Linked DNA regions of Homo sapiens: region 1 is linked to region 2. The links come from fine-mapping of genetic effects on plasma protein levels. Region 2 holds a variant in brackets. A gene starts in the other region. All regions are shown on their reverse strands.

Evidence for each region. A credible set is the group of variants that fine-mapping cannot tell apart. PIP is the chance, under the fine-mapping model, that this variant and not a neighbour inherited with it causes the effect. Protein levels are from antibody-based Olink assays in UK Biobank. Linkage for the fine-mapping came from a reference panel and not from the study's own genotypes, which makes the PIPs less certain.
Region 1: it holds the start of IL13RA1, and the variant in region 2 is the best candidate, but not a certain one, in a credible set for the plasma level of the IL13RA1 protein (UK Biobank, PIP 0.75).

Annotation. Positions count from the first base shown.
Region 1 is chrX:118,722,864-118,732,309 of GRCh38, reverse strand. IL13RA1 (interleukin 13 receptor subunit alpha 1) reads right to left here and starts at 4,704. Exons shown (of 11, transcript NM_001560.3): 1 at 4,584-4,704. The coding sequence starts at 4,671. RefSeq lists a silencer at 4,666-5,095.
Region 2 is chr19:787,457-796,829 of GRCh38, reverse strand. No RefSeq gene overlaps it. Among named protein-coding and RNA genes, the nearest start is that of PTBP1, 5.3 kb to the left of the region's middle. RefSeq lists enhancers at 1-259, 8,515-9,083, 9,084-9,373 and cis regulatory regions at 4,115-4,264, 4,562-5,632. The variant T/C (reference allele first, on the strand shown) is at 1,373.

The DNA.
Region 1 (9,446 bases), not on the chromosome of region 2:
AAATAGTATATCATTACATTCATATGAGATACTTAGAGTAGTCAAAATCATAGAGATAGAAAGTGGAATGGTGTTTGCCAGGGGCTAGGGGCAGGGGAAAATGAGGAGTTATTGTTTAATGGGTACAGAGTTTCAGTTTTACAAGATAAAAAGAGTTATGGGGATGGATGGTGATGATGGTTGCACAGCATTATGAATGTATTTCGTAACACTGAACTGTGTACTTAAAAATGATTAAGATGGTAAATTTTATGTGTATTTTATAATAAAAAATTGAAAAAAACACAGGCACTGAAACTTTAATCTCCAAATGTTTAAATATATACAAATACATGTGAACTGTGTGTGTATACAACATGCCTAGACATATATATGATTAAGTGATGATTATACTACTTGTAAAGGTCTCTAACAGCTCTTCGTGTATAACTTCAACATAGTGTAGTGTTTAAGAGCACAGACTCTGGAGCCTGACTGCCTGAGTTTATATCCCACCTCTACTACTTGCCAGCAGGCAAATTACTTAACCTCTCTATTTCTCAGTTTTCTCATCTCTAATATGAGGATAATAATAGTAACCTCTTGCAAAGGGTTATTATGAGGATTAAATGAGTTAATACAAGCAATGTGCTTAGAATAGTGCCCACAGGCAGCAAGTGCTATGTGTTAGCTATCTGCTTTATTTCTTTAAGACAAAACAATTCTAAAGAGTTGCTTTTTTTTTTTTTTTTTGGAGACGGAGTCTCGCTCTGTTACCCAGGCTGGAGTGCGCTGGTGTGATCTTAGCTCACTGCAAACTCTGCCTCCTGGGTTCAAGCGATTCTCCTGCCTCAGCCTTCCGAGTAGTTGGGATTACAGGTGTGCACTGCCACGCCTGGCTAATTTTTGTATTTTTAGTAGAGACTGGGTTTCGCCATGTTGGCCAGGCTGGTCTCGAACTCCTGACCTCAAGTGATCCACCCACCTCGGCCTCCCAAAGTGCTGGGATTACAGGTGTGAACCACTGTGCCTGGCCAGGGTTGCTTTGGTTTTCTGTTGAATTGATATGTGTCCCTGGCCTTTGAGACAGAACAAGTATCCCTTCTACCTGATAAGCTTCCCTTAGGCACCTAATTTCAACCATGTCTTGGGGATTGCACCACTGACTTCAGAAAAGGGAGTAGGAAGGGACCCAAGTATGTCTGTATCTAAACCTCAAATCCCAAGTCTGTACAGTCATCTAGCACAACATCCTATTTAAATTAAGAGTTAACACAATCTACTATTTCATAAGAAGGCATTTTGCTTAGCTTATAGCTTTTGCTCTCGCCTGTCCAATCACAGCAGCTAGCAGAGGCATGCACATTTTGGGAAAAGTTAAGGAAATCACAAGAGTCATATATGAGTCATCTGTCCCTTCCCTTACATCCACTCAGGCATCAACTCCTGTTCGTTTTTTTCTTCCAACATCTTTCTTAGTTACCCCAATCATGCAAATATGCTCTGTTGTGCCCCACCAGGTGGGAAGATACCAGTAAGTCATGGTCCTGGACAGGAAGGGTTCGCAGCACATTTTTCTAGTGGAGACCTGCAACCATAGATTCTTATGTAGCTTCACACTCCAGGGGCTCCCCTACCCAGTGAAGTCTCCCTGCTTGCTTCCTCCTTCTGTGTTATTTTTCCCATGCTGTGCCGGACTCAGAGCTTTCAAGGGCAAATCAAGCTATTCTGCCTGGATTGACTTTACCAATGCACTCTCCTGCCAAGCCAGGTTCCTTCTTGACCACAAAGGAGCACTCTTGCCCTCATTTCTGGGTCTCTGCTCCTGCTATTGCCCCCACCTGGAATAAATTCTCCACCTACTCAAATCCCAGTCATCCAGAAGATCTAGCTCAAGTTTTACCTCTTCCATAACACTACCAACCGTCAGCTTTTTCTCTTTTGAATGCCTATAGTACTAGTTGTTTGGACCACACAGCCCAGCCACTATAAAGCCAGTCTCCAATGTAGTATCATTCGCTTCTTTTTTTGTTTTGAGACAGTCTTGCTCTGTCGCCCAGGCTGAAGTGCAGTGGCCTGATCTTCCCTCACTGCAACCTCTGCCTCCCAGGATCAAATGAGTCTCATGCCTCAGCTTCCTGAGTAGCTGGGATTACAGGCATGTAATCCCACACTCGGCTAATTTTTGTATTTTTAGTAGACGGGGTTTTGCCATGTTGGCCAGGCTCAAACTCCTGGCCTCAAGTGATCCATCTGCCTCAGTCTCCTAAAGTGCTGGGATTACAGGCATGAGCCACTGCACCCGGCCTAATATAGTATCATTAGCTTCTTAACAAATGGCTTGCACATACTTTCGTGGGTCCCAAGCCGTCCTGCCCTGCTACCCTGGGAGGTGTCCAGCTAAGGACTCTCGTCTTTTCTGCTGGGCAGAAGCAATGAGTACAGTGGTTAAGGGCATGGCCTCTGGAATCAGGCTGCCAGGGTTGGAAACCTAGCTCTTCCACTTTGCCAGGTATGCGAATTTGGGCAAGGGTCTTGGTCGCACTGTGCCTCAACTTTTTCGTGTACAAAATGGGACTAATAACAGCACCTACAAGTTATATTATTGGTAAAGATTAAATGAAATAGTACAAGTAAAGCAGCTAGAAAACTGCTGGGCATAAATGCTATATACATGCTAGTTATAATTAAGACATGCCACAATGTGGGCCATTGAGTGGGACAGGTTAAACTAAGCTAGTAATCTAATCACTTTTATAAACACTCTGAGGATTAGAGCTGGAGGAGCTCTTAGAATTTATGCAGTTCAACCTCCTCATTTCACAGATGAGAAAACTAACTGCAGCACAAAAGAGAGGAAATGACCAGCCCAGAGTCCCACAGGTGGTAAATATCAGAACCACTAAAACTCAAGTCTCACTGGAAACATCTAATTTTTTCCCACCATACCTCAATGCAATTCTATCAATACTTTTAATGGGGAAAGAAGTTTGTTTTCTAAATAAGCAAGCTAACGACAAACCATTGTGACAGGACTGATGAAGTTGGGAGTTGCCAGTATTCTCTAGATGGCCAGCTGTTGTTTCAGGTGTGTGTGGGAGTGAGTCTGTAGGAGGGAGGGTGCTGGAGTGGCACTGTGAAAATCAGGAGACTAATGAGACGGGTAACTTTAGACAAGTTCCTTCCCTTCTCTGGACTGCAATGTCCCCATATGATTACGGAAATCAGGTGTACCCAACTAAACTAGAGGCCCTTTTGGGGCAAGAATTTTGCTATACACTCTCAGGTTCTAAGTCAACCTAGAGGGCCTGACTCAGTACTAAATAAGGCAGACACCTGAATAATTATTGACTGACAAGCTTCAAGTCTCCCTCAGGTCTCTACTCAAATGCCACCTTTCAGCAACATTTGTTTTCTTCTCGATCCACCCTTTTTACAATGGCAAACCCCTTCCCACCTGCTCTGTTTTTCTCTACTTAACACCCTCAGACATATCATATATTTTACCCCCACCCCCCGATATGTCTGAGGGCAGGCACCTCATCTGTTTTGCTCACTGCTGCATCCTCAGCCCCTAAACACTGCCTGGCAGCATGTATTTTATTGACTGAATCCATAGAGGGCATTAAGGTTTCCTAATCAACATTTCAACTTGGATTTCAAAGCACATTGGTAAAAATGCAATAAGCATATATAAGTGTTTGTGTCAATGTGATAATAAAACCTATACAGTTTGGGGCTTTCATTGTCACCAAAAACGTCCAGAAGGCCATTCCTTCCAGGAGCTGCTCCTAAGGAAGTCATTAACTCCCAATTTTTCACAACTGCCAGGTTGATTAACTAGAAGTTACCAAACAGGGTGAGGGATATACACAACTCTCTGAAGTATCTTTGCAACTTTTCCATAAATCTACAATTACCCTAAAATATAAGGTTTATTAAAGAGAGTGGGGTGGGGGGAGCATCTGCCGGGATGCTATTCTGGATTTCCCAAAGGATTTCTTCGACGCCAGAGGAGGTCATGAGCGTCACGTCCTTTTTCAACAAGGACTGAGATGTTTAGAGGTTCCCTTCAACTTCCACTCGCAAGAGCCACCCTTAGACAGTGAGGATTGGCGCGGCCTCGGGCAAAGAGCCCCGGCGCGTTCTCAGCTCGCCTGGACTTCGGTCGTGGTCCCCGCCGGCTCTGGCGCCTCATTTCCTCCCGGGCTCACAGGCGACATTCCGGGCGCTGACCCACGGCCCTCTGACGCCGTGGGCATGTTTCGGGCCCCCCGCCCCCGCACGCCTGGACGCCAGCCTCCTGGGCTCTTCCCACTACAAGTCGCAGCCCTCTTACTTCGCTGCCGCCACCTCCGCCGCACCCGGAGTTCGGGAAAACCCCGCAGCTCCCGGGTCCCACCTCGAACCGGCCCCAGTACCGGGCCCCAGAGATCCCGCGCGGGAAGCCGCAGCCGCCGAGCGCGGGGCCTCGCGAGGGCAGCCCCCAGCACCCACCCCAGCTTCGGCCCTCCGCCCGGCGTTGACCTCCGGGGCCTTTCAGCCGTGACCCTCACCGCCCTCAGCCCTCCGGCCGCCCCTCGGGCCCCGAGGGTCGCACTCACCCGTAGGCGCGGCGCCCCCGCCCCCGCCCCCGCCGCCGGCGCAGAGCAGCAGCGCCCACAGCCCGCAGAGCCGCGCCGGCCACTCCATGCAGCCTCTCGCCTCGGAGCCCGGCCGGGCTGGAGCCTTGGCAGTCCCCGCCTCCTTCGCTCCCTCTTCCACTTCCCGGCTCCGCCGCCCTGGAGGCTGGGGGCCGGCGCAGACGGGAAGGGCCGCCCCGCCCACCGGCCTCAGGTAACCTGAGCCGGCGAGAGCGGCCGGAGGAGGCGGGGCGGGGCGCCGGCGGCTCTGGCGGCTCTGGCGGCTCCTACGGCTCCCAAGGCTGGACACCTGGCCCACCCGCAGCTCCCGCGTCCGGTCTCTGACCGAACAAAACTTCTTCCACCACGTCGCCGCCCACTCCGGGCGCTGCCTGGGCCTCCTCCCTCCGCGTGGCGGAGCCGGCGTCGCCGCTGCCAGCACACTTGCGGGGCCTCGGAGGTGCTAGGGGCTGTGCCCTGCTGGACACCAGGACAGAGTCATCTGCGGAAAAGAGCCTTGGCCTGGGAGTCTGGAGACCTGGCTTCCAGCCCTTGACCTCTGAGCCCTTGTTTGCTAGCGCTGACTCCAGGGTTAGTAATACCAGCCCTACTTCACTGGGTGGAGTTGGGGACACTGGCAGTACTGTGCTTTGTGAAAAGGACAAAGGGCATATTTGAAAGCTGGCAATACATAATGTTGATTTTAAAAGGAACATTCCAAACATGAGGGAGGATACCATACGTGCATTTTTTAAAGCACACGACAAACTTTCTACATATTTTTCAAAGGGATGGGAGGTGAATCGGAAGAATACACATTGATACTTGGGCGCCTATGAGGGTCAGTGAGGCTGGGAGGAAGGAAAACAAGAGTCCTTAGGCGTTTCCTGTTGCTGCTGTCAAAAATGACCACAAATTTAGTGATTTAACAGTTTTATTTTATTACAGTTCTGGAGGTCAGAAGTGACACTGAGCTTAAATCAAGGTGTGGGCAGAGATGTATTCCTTCTGGATATTCTAGGGGAGAATCTGTGTCTTTGACTTTTCCAGCTTCTAGAGGCTACCCACATTCCTTGGCTTGTTGCGGAACTACTCAGACCTCTGCTTCCCTTGTCGTATCTGACTCTGACCCTCTTACTTCCCCTTTTCCCTTATAAATACCCTTGTGATTAGATTAGGTCCACCAGATAATTCATAATAATCTCCCCATCTCAAAATCCTTGATTTAATCATAACTGAAAAGTCATTTTTGCTATGTAAGTTAACATATTCACAGGTGTTGGGGATCACGATATGGAATCATGGGAGGGGGACATTATTCTATCACCTTCTCCCAAAAAAGAATCATGTCTAGGTGGATGATGAGACCCATAATGAGGTGTATTTTGGCCGAATTAAGCCAATGCATATACCTGAAAACAGTTACAAAAAGTATAGCAATAAAAATGCTGATAATATACCTAGTCTAGACCCCACCCAAAGGGCACAGGGTTGTTTAACCTATTCACAACAAAGGTTCCACTCTTGGAATTAAGGCTCTCAAACTCAATAAATATTTATGAAATTGTTCCAGGAACTGTTGAAGACACTCACCAAAAGCAAGCTCTGCTAACAGAAAGCTGCAGTCAGTCTGAGGGGCAATGATAAGGGCAAGAACAAGGAATTATGGGATACAAAAAGGGTACCTTTTGGGAGGGAAGGAGCAAGGGAAGCTTCCAGGAGGAGGGCCTGCCTGTGCTGAATCTCAGGATGTTGATTCTTTTGGCTAACGGTTCAGAATAAATTCCAGAATCCAGGCATGGTGGCATGCACCTGTAATCCCAGCTATTCTGGAGGCTGAGGTGGAAGGATCACCTGAGCCCAGGAGTTCAAAACCAGCCTGGGTCTGTAACAGAGTGAGACCCCGTTCTCAAAAAAAAAAAAAATAAATCCTGGCTTGCATGTGTTATCGAACAAAATAATGTTTATGAAAACAGTTTGTAAAGTATCAAGGCCTGTAGAACTGAGAGATAGTATCATTATTTCTAAATCCCTCCCACAAATAGGTCAGCCACTGTGTATCCCAAGGCCTTTCCTCCACCACCACGGACATATACACTTGTTGACATTTGCTATAAACATTATACAATAAGTTTATAATAACGTTTCCAAAATGGTTATGTCATCTGCCTTTTAAGGAGTCTTTAGTTGGAACAGGAGCCCCTGGGGACTGGCTGAGTGCCATCATGGGCACTGCTTGGCATAGATTGACCAAGCGCTTAATAAAACAGTAATGGTAGCAAATGATTAGAAAAATAGGGATTGCAGCTTGTCATGAGCTTCCAGAAAAGCCCTGAGAATCTGAACATCGTGAGGAAAAAAAACAAACGGCAGTGTGGAGAGGGGAGAGACCTGATTTCTTTTCACCAAGATAGTTCCGGCCTGCTGGCCTTAAGACTATATTGTTACTTTCCTTTCTTCCCGACCCTGAACATCATGCAACGATTTTTCAAATTTTTGGAAGGGGGTGGAAAGAGTCAGGAATGCTGTTTCTTCAACATAAAACTTGTATTTGTAATCTCCGTGTAGTGTGATTCGAAGAGCGTCTTGGATTGAATCAGGCCACTGCCCTGGTCTGCAGGAAGAATGAAGACAGATAGAAGGCTTTCCAGGAACTGCAGTAGACAAGGAGCTTTCAGTTTGGCTTTGTGTAAATCAAAATCATGATGAGTCAACATCAAGTTTAACCCTTAGAGTCCTGATGACTTGGGTGCGAGACTACCAGTGGCCTTTCTTTCACTTTGGCCCGGGGTGGCTGGAGTTCTGCGCTGCCCTGTGTACCTAGGCCACTCCACTCAACTGTTTTGACCTTTGCCCTTCTCACTAAGTCTTCGTCCATTTCTGTAACTGGAGGCTGAAAAGGGCATATGCAAGAAAATGTCTGGCAGGAAAGAATGATGTCCCTCTTTCCAAAGTCAGGTGTCCTTCCATCCATTTAGAGACACCTTCCTGAGTCCAAAAGGGACACAGACACCAGCATATTCCAAGGGCTTAGCTAAAAGTGCTGGTCCCTTAGACAAAAATCTCACAAAGAGTCCTCTAAGCAAAACCTCACACCACTGCAAAACAAAGAAAAAGGAGAAGTTGAAAACAGGGAATTTCCCTCCCGATTCTGGATCAGTGGCCCCCAACCAGGGGCAATTTTACATCCCAGGGGACATTCGGCAATATGGAGAGATATTTTTGGTTGTCATGACTGAAGCGGGGGCATGCTTCTGGAATGCAGTGAGTAGAGGCTGGGGATGCTGCTGTTAATACAATGCACACGACCGCCCCCACAACAAAGACTTACTCTACTCAAGATGACAACAGCGCCAAAGGTGAGAGAGATCCTAAGCTAGAATACTCTTTGTTGTCTTTTGTATTTGGTCCCCACCCACCCACTGTCCCCCATGCCTGGCCAAAATTAGAGATGAATGCTAAAAGTATGTACTCTTGACAACTCCCTTTCCTGTATCTCGTACCCCCAGTTCCCCATCCACTGTCTAGTCCTGCAGTCACTGATTAGATGGTAAAACATCTCTCAGATCTATTCCTCCCCCGACCACCCAGTTTCGCCTCTATGGTTCTATTTCAGGACTTTATTACCATTCCAGAAACAGTCTTCAAACTGGCCATGAGGGTCTACCCTTTACAAGACAGATCTTCCCAATGAGCAATCTGTCCATGTCACTCCTCAGCTTAAGCTTAAGTGACACCCCTCCCTTCATCAAATGCCACAAAAGGCAGTCTCAACTCCTCTGCCTGCAGGCTTGCCTCTTCAGGTTAGATTCCCCACACTCTTCCTAGCTTCACTTCCAGCCAAGCTTCCAGGTTCCAGGTGGCTGACTGGCCACCTTCAGGCTGAATCTCCCTTGTGAGCAATTGTGTTTGGTCCATATCATGTTGGAATTCATGGGGATCTAGATGCCAAAGTGTTTTTTTTAAGTCAGGAGATTTTGCCTAAGGCCCCAGATTTCCAGCTTCTCTTAATAAATCAAAAGTCCTGGTAATATTGGACCTGTTTCAGTGTAGAAACCGTCAGCAGATGTCAGATGGGCTGCCACCTTGTTAACAGGGCATGTACTTCCTGTCTGCACATGCCCTAGGGCTCCCTATTGCTCCCTGGCCTAGTCAGCGTTTCCTCACTTATGACTTGCCCGGTTCTTGTTTGTCACCTGTGATATTTTCTCACTGCAAACCTTTTATCTTGCTGTTCCCTTTATCTAAAATGCTTTTCCATTTCTCAAGTGTCACATTTTTTAGGGGCTTCTCTAACTCCCAAATGCAAAATTCTTTGCTCCCTCCTGTGTGTGTGCTCATAGCACCAGACACGTTCCTCTATCATATCAAATCACACAGAGGTTTGTGTGCATGTCTATTTCTGCCACTGGATTCAAGCTCCTGGAGGTCAGACTGTCCAGGGTGACTCCAGGTTTTCTACCTAGGAGGAGCTTAGTGGTGGTAATCTGATTGGAAGGAACAATCCCCAGGGGCCTTGTCTTGGAGCCATGTATGTACAGCAAGAGCTCTACTCTTACTTAGATTCTGAGTGGATTGAGTCGGGGGAGCTTGGAGAAAGGCATCCTCTGGCACCACAGAGAATATAAAGATGAATGGAACATGGTTAGTGGCTCATAACTCATTCTCAATGTTTGGGTTTAATTGAATTAAAGGTCCTTGCTCTTCAGCAGGTGGTTTTCTTCTACAGTTTTAGTGGAGTTCACTCAAGGGAGTGTTGCTTGCACAAGAGGCCACTGACAGGACCCTTTGGGTTTTGCCTGAGAGTAGGCACGCTTCTAGGTGACTGGGTCAGTGTCCTGAAAC
Region 2 (9,373 bases):
CGCGCCATGATCCGGGGTCACCCCCGACCGTTCTTTGTTCGCCCCGGAACAGCGAATCCCGACTGCGGAGATAGGGAAACTGAGGTCCGGGCCCCGCACAGTCCGCGGCCGGCTGCCTACAGCTGGGAAAACTGAGGCCTGGACCTTGTACAGTCCGCGGCCGCCCGCCTACAGCTGGGGAAACTGAGGCCTGGACCTTATACAGTAGGCGGCCGCCCGCCTACAGCTGGGGAAACTGAGGCCTGGACCTTGTACAGTCCGCGGCCTCTCACCTACAGCTGGGGAAACTGAGGCCTGGACCTTGTACAGTCCGCGGCCGCCCGCCTACAGGTGGGGAAACTGAGGCCTGGACCTTGCAGTCCTTGGCCGCCCGCCTACAGCTGGGGAAACTGAGGCCTGGACCTTGTACAGTCCGCGGCCTCTCACCTACAGCTGGGGAAACTGAGGCCTGGACCTTGTACAGTGGGCGGCCGCCCGCTTACAGCTGGGGAAACTGAGGCCTGGACTTTGCACAGTCCGCGGCCAACCGCCTAAAGCTGGGGAAGCTGAGGTCCGGGCCACACACAGTCCACGGCCATCCGCCTACAGCTGGGGAAACTGAGGCCAAAGCCACACACAGTCCACGGCCATCTGCCTACAGCGGGGGAAACTGAGGCCCAGGCCACACACAGTCCACGGCCATCCGCCTACAGCTGGAGAAACTGAGGCCCGGGCTCCATACAATCCAAGGCCGCCCGCCTACAGGTGGGGAAACTGAGGCCCAAGCCACCCGCCTACAGCTGGGGAAACTGAGGCCCGAGCCCCCTACAGTCCCTGGCCCACTGACCTACAGCTGGGGAAACTGTGGCCTGGAGCTCGTACAGTTCGAGGCTGCCAGCCTACGGCTGGGGAAACTGAGGGCCAGGCCCAGCAGGGTCACCAGGAGGGTCCCTCCCGGGCCACCATCCCAGCAGCAGAAAACACCCTAAACTAATGTTCCCAGGAGCGCTGATCACATGAAGAGTCTGACAGAGCTGTGAGGGTGCCTGACGGGGAGGCCAGGTCAGCGGGTTGGGAGCCATCCCAGAGTGAGGGGATGACCCCGGCCCTCCACACTGGGACCCTCACGGGAGGCTGCGGTTGGAAACCGGAGCAGTTCCCGGCCCGGAGTAGACACTGCTCCCTAAATAGAATTAGCGGGATTTAGTCCATGCTGAAAAGGGGGTTTTTCATTAACACCAACCTACGGAGGGAGAAGACATGACAATTCTCGTTTCCCCAAATCCAGGCGAGCCTAGCGCCCTGCTTCTCTGGCGTGTTTTATTCCAGCAGTGCTGCGTTTCAGGCCGGGGCCTGGCGTGGGCCCAGGAGCCTTGGAGCCCCGCCGGGCGTC[T/C]GGTGCCAGAGGATTCCAGCCCGGATTAGGGGTGGCCGCCGAGCTCCATGGAGGCATCGCACGGCAAGGTCCTTTGGCCCGAACCACCCGGTCAACGGAGACTCACCAAGAGCCATCTGCAGCCAGGGTCACTCATCAGGAATGTCCGGTGGATCTGGGAGAAGCCCAGTGTGTTACTGTGGATTTGCTCCCCTGGAGACCCCCATCCTCACACCACCAGAACCAGCCGCTTCTGTCTGTTCGCGGAGTGCCTGGGATGGGCCCCGCCCTGAAAGCAGACAGGCAGGGGCGGCCGGGGGTCTGAGTGGCAGCTGGCAGCAGTAGAGACCACCAGGTTCCAAGCACCAGTCTAACCCTTCGGAATCGTGTTAAAACCCACTTCTGATCGTGGCCCCGCCAGGCCTCCTGTCTTGCTCAAAGTATAAACCCAAGGCCATCCCTTACCCCGCAAGCCCCACATGACCAGCCACCTGTCCAGTACCTTTTTTTATTTTTATTTTTTTAAGACAGTGTCTGGCCGGGTGCAATGGCTCACACCTGTAATCCCAGCACTCTGGCAGGCCGAGGTGAGTGGATCACCTGAGGTCAGAGTTCGAGACCAGCCTGGCCAACATGGAGAAACCTCCTCTCCACCAAAAATACAAAAATTAGCCAGGCGTGGTGGTGCATGCCCTATAATCCCAGCTCCTTGGGAGGCTGAGGCAAGAGAATCACTTGAACCCGGGAGGCGGAGGTTGCAGTGAGCCGAGATTGCGCCATTGCACTCCAGCCTGGGCAACAGGAGTGAAACTCTGTCTCTAAAAAACAAAAACGAAAATAAACACCTGTCATCCCAGCACTTTGGAAGGCCGAGGCAGGCGGATCACAAGGTGAAGAGCCTGAGACTATCCTGGCCAACATGGTGAAAGCCCGTTTCCACTAAAAATACAAAAATTTGCCGGGCGTGGTGGTTTGCTCCTGTAATCCCAGCTACTCGGGAGACTGAGGCGGGAGAATCACTTGAACGCGGGAGGCGGAGGTTGCAGTGAGCCTAGATTACGCCACTGTACTCCAGCCTGGGCAACAGAGTGACACGCTATCTCAAAAAAAAAAGTAAAAATAAAAAATAAAATGTATGTCGCGGAATTTAGGGTCTACCTGCAGACTCCAGGATGATCTCATCTCAAGACACTTAATGGTACCTTCAAAGACTGGTGTTCCAAATGAAGCCTTGTTCACGGGTTCCAGGGTTTAGGATGTGGTTGTCTTTCTTTGGGGCCACCTCTCAGCCCCTCAGCCCCACCCACCACCTGAAGCTTAGAGGGCGATAGCAGGTACAAGCAGGCCGTTTGTTTTTGCAATGGCGGCCTGGTCCCAGGAACCCCCCCCACCGCCTCCACCTCACCCAGGTCACCTGAAACCAGTGTCCTTCCTGGGCTGGCCTGACAGTAACCATGGCTGAGGGCCCAGCAATTTACAGGTCAGCTGTCATATGCAGAACGCCAGCGCGGGAAGACGCCCAGGGGCTCCCGTGGGCACCTGATTTATTTAGCGAGCAGGGCCCAGCCTCTGTCTTTTCTCCTCTCCTGTCTCCCATCCCAGCCCGCAGGCCAGCTGCCTCCTTCATGAATGATTCAGGGTGAGCGAGGAACAGGCTCACCTTGCCTTTGTGCGAGAATCACGTTGGTTTGCTGGTTACCATTTTGAAAATGATACTCTGAGCCTGGCAGGAGAAACGGGGGGGGGAGTGAGGACATCTGAGGCCCTCAGAGCCACCGAATCTCATGCAGAGGGCCTGCTGGGGCCTCAGACACCTTTCAGTTCTGATGGGGGAGGGAAGGGCCGTGCCTCAGTTTACTTCTTCGTCAACATGAGTGGCAGGGCCAGGCCGTCCCTCCTCCCCATGAGCAGTTCCATAGATTTATTTTTCCTTTTCCTTTTTTTTTGTTTTTTTTTTGGGGGGGATGGAACCTCACTCTATTGCCCAGGCTGGAGTACAGTGGCGCAATCTTGGCTCACTGCAACCTCTGCCTCCCGGGTTCAAGTGATTCTTCTGCGTCAGCCTCCTGAGTAGTTGGGATTACAGGTGCCTGCCACCACGCCTAGCTAATTTTTGTATTTTTATTCTTATTTTTTTATTTGATTTATTTTTTTCTTTTTCTGAGACGGCGTCTCGCTCTGTCGCCCAGGCTGGAGTGCAATGGCGTGATCTCAGCTCACTGCAACCTCCGCCTCCTGGGTTCAAGCGAGTCTCCTGCCTCAGCCTCCCGAGTAGCTGGGACTACAGGCGCCCACCACCATGCCCAGCTAATTTTTATACTTTTAATAGAGACGGGGTTTCAGCATGTTGGCCAGGATGGTCTCGATCTCTTGACCTTGTGATCTGCCCTCCTTGGCCTCCCAAAGTGCTGGGATTACAGGCCACCCTGTAATCCACCTGTGAGCCACCACACCCAGCCTAATTTTTGTATTTTTAGTAGAGATGGGGTTTCACTGTGTTGGCCAGGCTGGTCTCGAACTCCTGACCTCAGGTGATCTGCCCGCCTTGGTCTCCCAAAGTGCTGGGATGACAGGTGTGTGCCCGCACAGCCAGCACAGGTTTATTATCTTAATTACAAAAGTGAGGGCTCAGGGATCCAGGGCGCGGCCTCGGGCTGGTCTCCTGGGTGGTCTCCCAGCCTCTCCGGCCCATTTCCTGGATTTCTGTTGAACGGAGCTTGGAGTGGGGGTTCGGTGAGGCCACCCCAAGGCCTGATGGCCAGGACTCACGGACAGGAATGCATTGCTATTCCCTGGCCTCACTATACCCCATGCAGAACCACTTCCGTCCTGTGCTCTGTGCTCTGGGAATCAACTGCGGCTCGAGGCTGGTCCCGCCCCTCCAAGCTGGGACAGTGGGTTGGTATAGGAAGTAGAGATCCTAAAGGGAATGGGGGCTTTATTTATTTTTTGTTTATTTATTTTTTTGAGGCAGGGTCTCACTCTGTTGCCCAGGCTGGAGTGCAGAGGCACAGTCTCGGCTCCCCACAGCCCCAACCTCCCCAGCTCAGGTGATCCTCCCGCCTCAGCCTCTCGGTAGCTGGGGCTATAAGCAAGTAGTTCCACCACGCCTGGCTCATTTTAAAAAATGTTTTGTAGACACAGAATCTCACCGTGTTACCCAGGCTGGTCTCAAACTCCTGGGCTCAAGGGGTCCTCCTGCCTCAGCTGCCCAGTGTGCTGGGATGACAGGTGTGAGCTGCCACACCCGGCCTGAGAGGTCCTGTAAATTAGCCCCTCAACTCCTTTCTCCCCCACCCTCTCCAGTCTCTGTTCATCCCCCACCCCAAGAAGGACCCCTGTCCCTGCAAGGGGTGGTGGGCCCAAGGATCTGCCCCCGAATTATCAAAGTCACTTCTCAAGAGTCTTCTCATCCCAGGACACCTCCCTATGCCCAGACCTCAGGGAGACCAGCCTCTCCCCACCCCCACCCTGGGCCCTCAGGCCAACAGGAAAAGGCCACAGCGTTATCTGCCCAGACCCATCCTTCCCCACCCCATCCGCCTCTCCCCCAGGCCTGGCACCCCGCCATTCTGTGCTCCCCTCCCCAGCCTGACCCTCTTTCCCCACCCCACCCAGGGGAGTTCAGCTGGAGCTGGGCCCTGACCCTCCTCCCTACCCCCAGGGGAGTTCAGCTAGAGCTGGGCCCTGATCCTCCTCAATCCCCCCTAGAGCTGGGTCCTGAGCCTCCCCCCTCCCCCCTCCCCCCGGGGGAGTTCAGCTAGAGCTGGGCCCTGACCCTCCCCCGTCCCCTAAGAGGCCCTGTGGGTCTGAACTCAGGCAGAGAACTTGCTAGGAACTTCCAAAGAGGGTGCTGAGGTGCGTGGATCCCTGAGATCAGGAGTTCAAGATCAGCCTGGCCAACATGGGGAAACCCCGTCTCCCACTAAAAAAACAAAAATTATCTGGGCATGGTGGTGGGTGCCTGTAACCTCAGCTCCTCGGGAGACTGAGGCAGGAGAATTGCTTGAACTCAGGAGGCGGAGGTTGCAGTGAGCCGAGATGGGGCCATTGCACTCTAGCATGGGTGACGGAGCAAGACTCTGTCTCAAAAAAAAAAAAGAGGGGTGGGGCTTGGCTTGGGGATGTGCCAGCACTGGGGGCCGGCCCTCAGGAACCCCGCAATTCTCCTCCTATTCATGCCCCTGAGAGAAGGGGAAACACAAGTCCACACAGAAACGCGTACATGAACGTTCATCGTAGTGTTATTCACGGAGGCCACATGTGGAAACAGCCCAAATTCCCGTTAGTGGAAGAAAAGACCAACCCAGTGCCGGCCGTCCACCGCGGAACACAACTCAGCGTGAAAAGGATCCAGGCTCTGACCCAGGCCACAGCGCGGATGCACCTTAAGGACGTCACGCTCCGTGAGAGACGCCAGACACAGAAGGACACACAGCGTGTGATCCCATTTATTTTATTTTTTCGAGACAGAGTTTGGCTCTTGCTGCCCAGGCTGGAGTGCAATGGCACGATCTCAGTTCACTGCAACCTCTGCCTCCTGGTTCAATCAATTCTCCTGCCTCAGAGTCCCAAGGAGCTGAGATTGCAGGCACCCACCACCAAGCCCAGCTAATTTTTGTATTTTTAGTAGAGATGGGGTTTCACCATGTTGGCCAGGCTGGTCTCAAACTCCTGACCTCAGGTGATCCGCCCGCCTCGGCCTCCCAAAGTGCTAGGATGACAGGCGTGAGCCACCGCGCCTGGCCCCGTGTGATCCCATTTCTATGAAATATCCAGGCCAGGGGGGTGGGGGCTCACACCTGTCATTCCCAGCCCTTTGGGAAACCCAGGCGGGAGGATCCCTTGAGGCCAGGAGTTCAAGGCTGTAGTTAGCTGGGATCCCACCACTGCACTCCATCCTGGGCCACAGAGTGAGATCCCATCTCAAAAAATTAAATAAAGCCAGGCCCAGTGGCTCACGCCTGTAATCCTAGCACTTCGGGAGCCCGAGGCAGGCAGATCGCCTGAAAACCCTGTCTCGGCCGGGTGTGGTGGCTCATGCCTGTAATCCCAGCAGTTTGGGAGGCTGAGGTGGGTGGATCACCTGAGGTCGGGAGTTCAAGACCAGCCTGACCAACATGGTGAAACCCTTTCTCTACTAAAAATACAAAATTAGCCAGGTGTGGTGGTGCATGCCTGTAATCCCAGCTACTCGGGAGGCTGAGGCAGGAGAATCGCTTGAACCTGGGAGGCGGAGGTTGCAGTGAGCTGAGATCGCACCATTGCACTCCAGCCTGGTGACAGAGTAAGACTCTGTCTCAAAAAAAAAAAAAAAGGAAAGGATGGAGTGAAGTGGGTAGTTGTTCATGCCTATAATCCCATCACTTCGGGAGGGCGAGGCACGAGGATTGCTTGAGGCCAGGACTTTGAAACCACCCTGGGCAACATGGCAAAACCCTGTATAAACAAAAGTCAAAGAATCAGCTGGGCGTGGTGGTGCACGCCTGTGGTCTCAGCTATTCAGGAGGCTAAGGCCGTAGTCTCACCAGAGCCCAGGAGATGGAGGCTGCAGTGAACCGAGATTTCGCCACTGCACTCCAGCCTGGATGACAGGGCAAAATCCAGTCTCTAAAGCAACAGAAAAAGCAAATAAACAAATAAGGAAGGGGGGGCAGGGGTCTTTCTGTCAAGTGACCACCCACAGCAGCTTGTGGTTCGGACGGAGACGCAGGGCCTACTGGGTCCCTGCTCCTGCTGGGAGGTCCTGCGGGCAATGAGCTGTGTTAGAAGCCAGGGGTTGCCGACGATGGACATGAAACAGGTACAGGACAGGGCGCCGCCGGGAGCTGCAGCCAGCCCCGCAGGAAACAGCCGCAGCCAGAGAGAAAGGCAGGAAGGGCCCGGGAGGGTCAGGAAGGCCTCGCTGAGGAGGCAGAATTTGATCTGAGGGGGAAGGGCCGGCCACAAAGGCAAACTCCCCGGGGTGGGGTGAATTGAGTTCCCTCAAAGATCTGTCTTTGCGTGAACCCCAGGCACCTACAAATGGGACCTTATGTGGAAATAGGGTTTCTGCAGATGTAATTAGTTAGGATGAGATCATTAGGGCGGGCACCACCGCAGTGACAGGCGACTTCGGGAGACAAGGGAAATTTGGACACAGATGCAGAGGAGACCGCCGTGGGGCAGCAGAGGCAGAATTGGGAGGGAAGCGGCCGCAAGTCCAGGAGGGTCAGAGGTGGCTGTCGGCACCAGGAGCTGGAAGAGGCCGGGAGGGTACTCGCCTGGCACCTTGCACACCTTCACTTCAGACTTCCGGCCTCCAGAGACGAGAGTGTATTTGTGTTGTTTTAAGCCGCACAGCCTGCTTACCTGGTCCCAGCAGGCCCCGGAAGCCCATTCATCCTGCGGGGACTTAGGCCAGCCAGGCGTGCTGGGGCCTCGTGTGGTGATGGGGATGGGAGACAGACGTGGGCCAGAGCGCTGGCCCCCCTCCACGGCCTTGCAAAATTTATTAAAAGGAAGATGTCTCCATAGGGAGAGGGAACGTGAGCCGGGCTGTCAGTGATCCAGCAGCCATCTGCTCACCAGCCCGACCACAGGGTCAGCGGCCTGCAGAGTGGGGGTGGGGCGGGGGCACAGAGGGATGGCAGGCCCCGCTGCACGCTCCCCCGGGAGTGGAGACCCCAGCCCTGCAGGCTGCTGCGCCCAGGCCTTGTTCTGGGGAACACTCTGTCTCCAGTGTCCTCTAGAACTCGGCGTTTTATCCATGGCAGGTGGAAGGTCTGCTCTTTGTAAAACAATAATAAAGTCAGGCCAGGCGCGGTGGCTCACGCCTGTGATCCCAGCACGTTGGGTGACTGAGGCGGGTGGATGCCCTGAGGTCAGGAGTTCGAGACCAGCCTGGCCAACAGGGCAAAAGCCTGTCTCTACCAAAGATATAAAAATTAGCTGGGTGTGGTAGCATACACATGTAATCCCAGCTACTCGGGAGGCTGAGGCAGGAGAATTATTATTTGAACCCAAGAGGCGGAGGTTGCAGTGAGCTGAGATCACGCCACTGCACTCCAGCCTGGGTGACAGAGTGAGACTCTCTCTCTCTCTCAAAAAAAATGAGTAAATCGAGGCCGGGCGCGGTGGTTCACGCCTGTCATCCCAGCACTTTGGGAGGCTGAGGCGGGCAGATCACGAGGTCAGGAGACCGAGACCATCCTGGCGAACACGGTGAAACCCCGTCTCTACTAAAAATACAAAAAAATTACCCGGGCGTGGTGGTGGGTGCCTGTAATCCCAGCTACTTGGGAGGCTGAGGCAGGAGAATCGCTTGAGCCCGAGAGGCAGAGGTTGCAGTGAGCCAGGATCACACTAATGCAGTCCAGCCTGGACAACACAGTGAGACTCGGTATCAAATAAATAAAAATAAAAGTACATAAATAAAAACCTCACAGTGACCCTGACATTGTGTCTCCCCAGAGGTCAGGCCTCCATTGTGAGGGGATGTGGGATCCCGATAGGAAGCTAATTTTGGAGGGAACCAGGCCTAGAAGGAAAAGAGCCCCAGGCGGGCCCAGGATGGAGGCGGAGCAGACGCCCTCCAGGCCGCAGCTGCCCCGGGCTTCATTACAGGGAACCCAGGACACCGTAGCCAAGCCCGGAGCTCCTGGAGGTGACTGCTCAGGCATCAATAGTTTATAGCAGGAAACGACACTTGGTCTCAGGTCACCCACAGCCGGCTCGGGTGGCCTGGGGCTGGGCCCTGGGGCTGGAGTGGAGGCTGTATCACAGGTACCAGTTTGCTCTGGTTTTGATGGGCCTGTGGGCCATGGCGGCTCAGGTGCTTGTGCAAGGAGGGCTTTGGGGCCGGGCGCGTGGCTCCCACCTGTGATCCCAGCACTTTGGGAGGCCGAGGTGGGCGGATGGTTTGAGCCCAGGAGTTTCGGACCAGCCTGGGTGACATAGTGAGACCCCATCTCTATTAAAAATTTAAAAATGAACACTTTCAGGCTGGTCACAGTGGCTTCCTCCTGTAATCCCAGCACACTG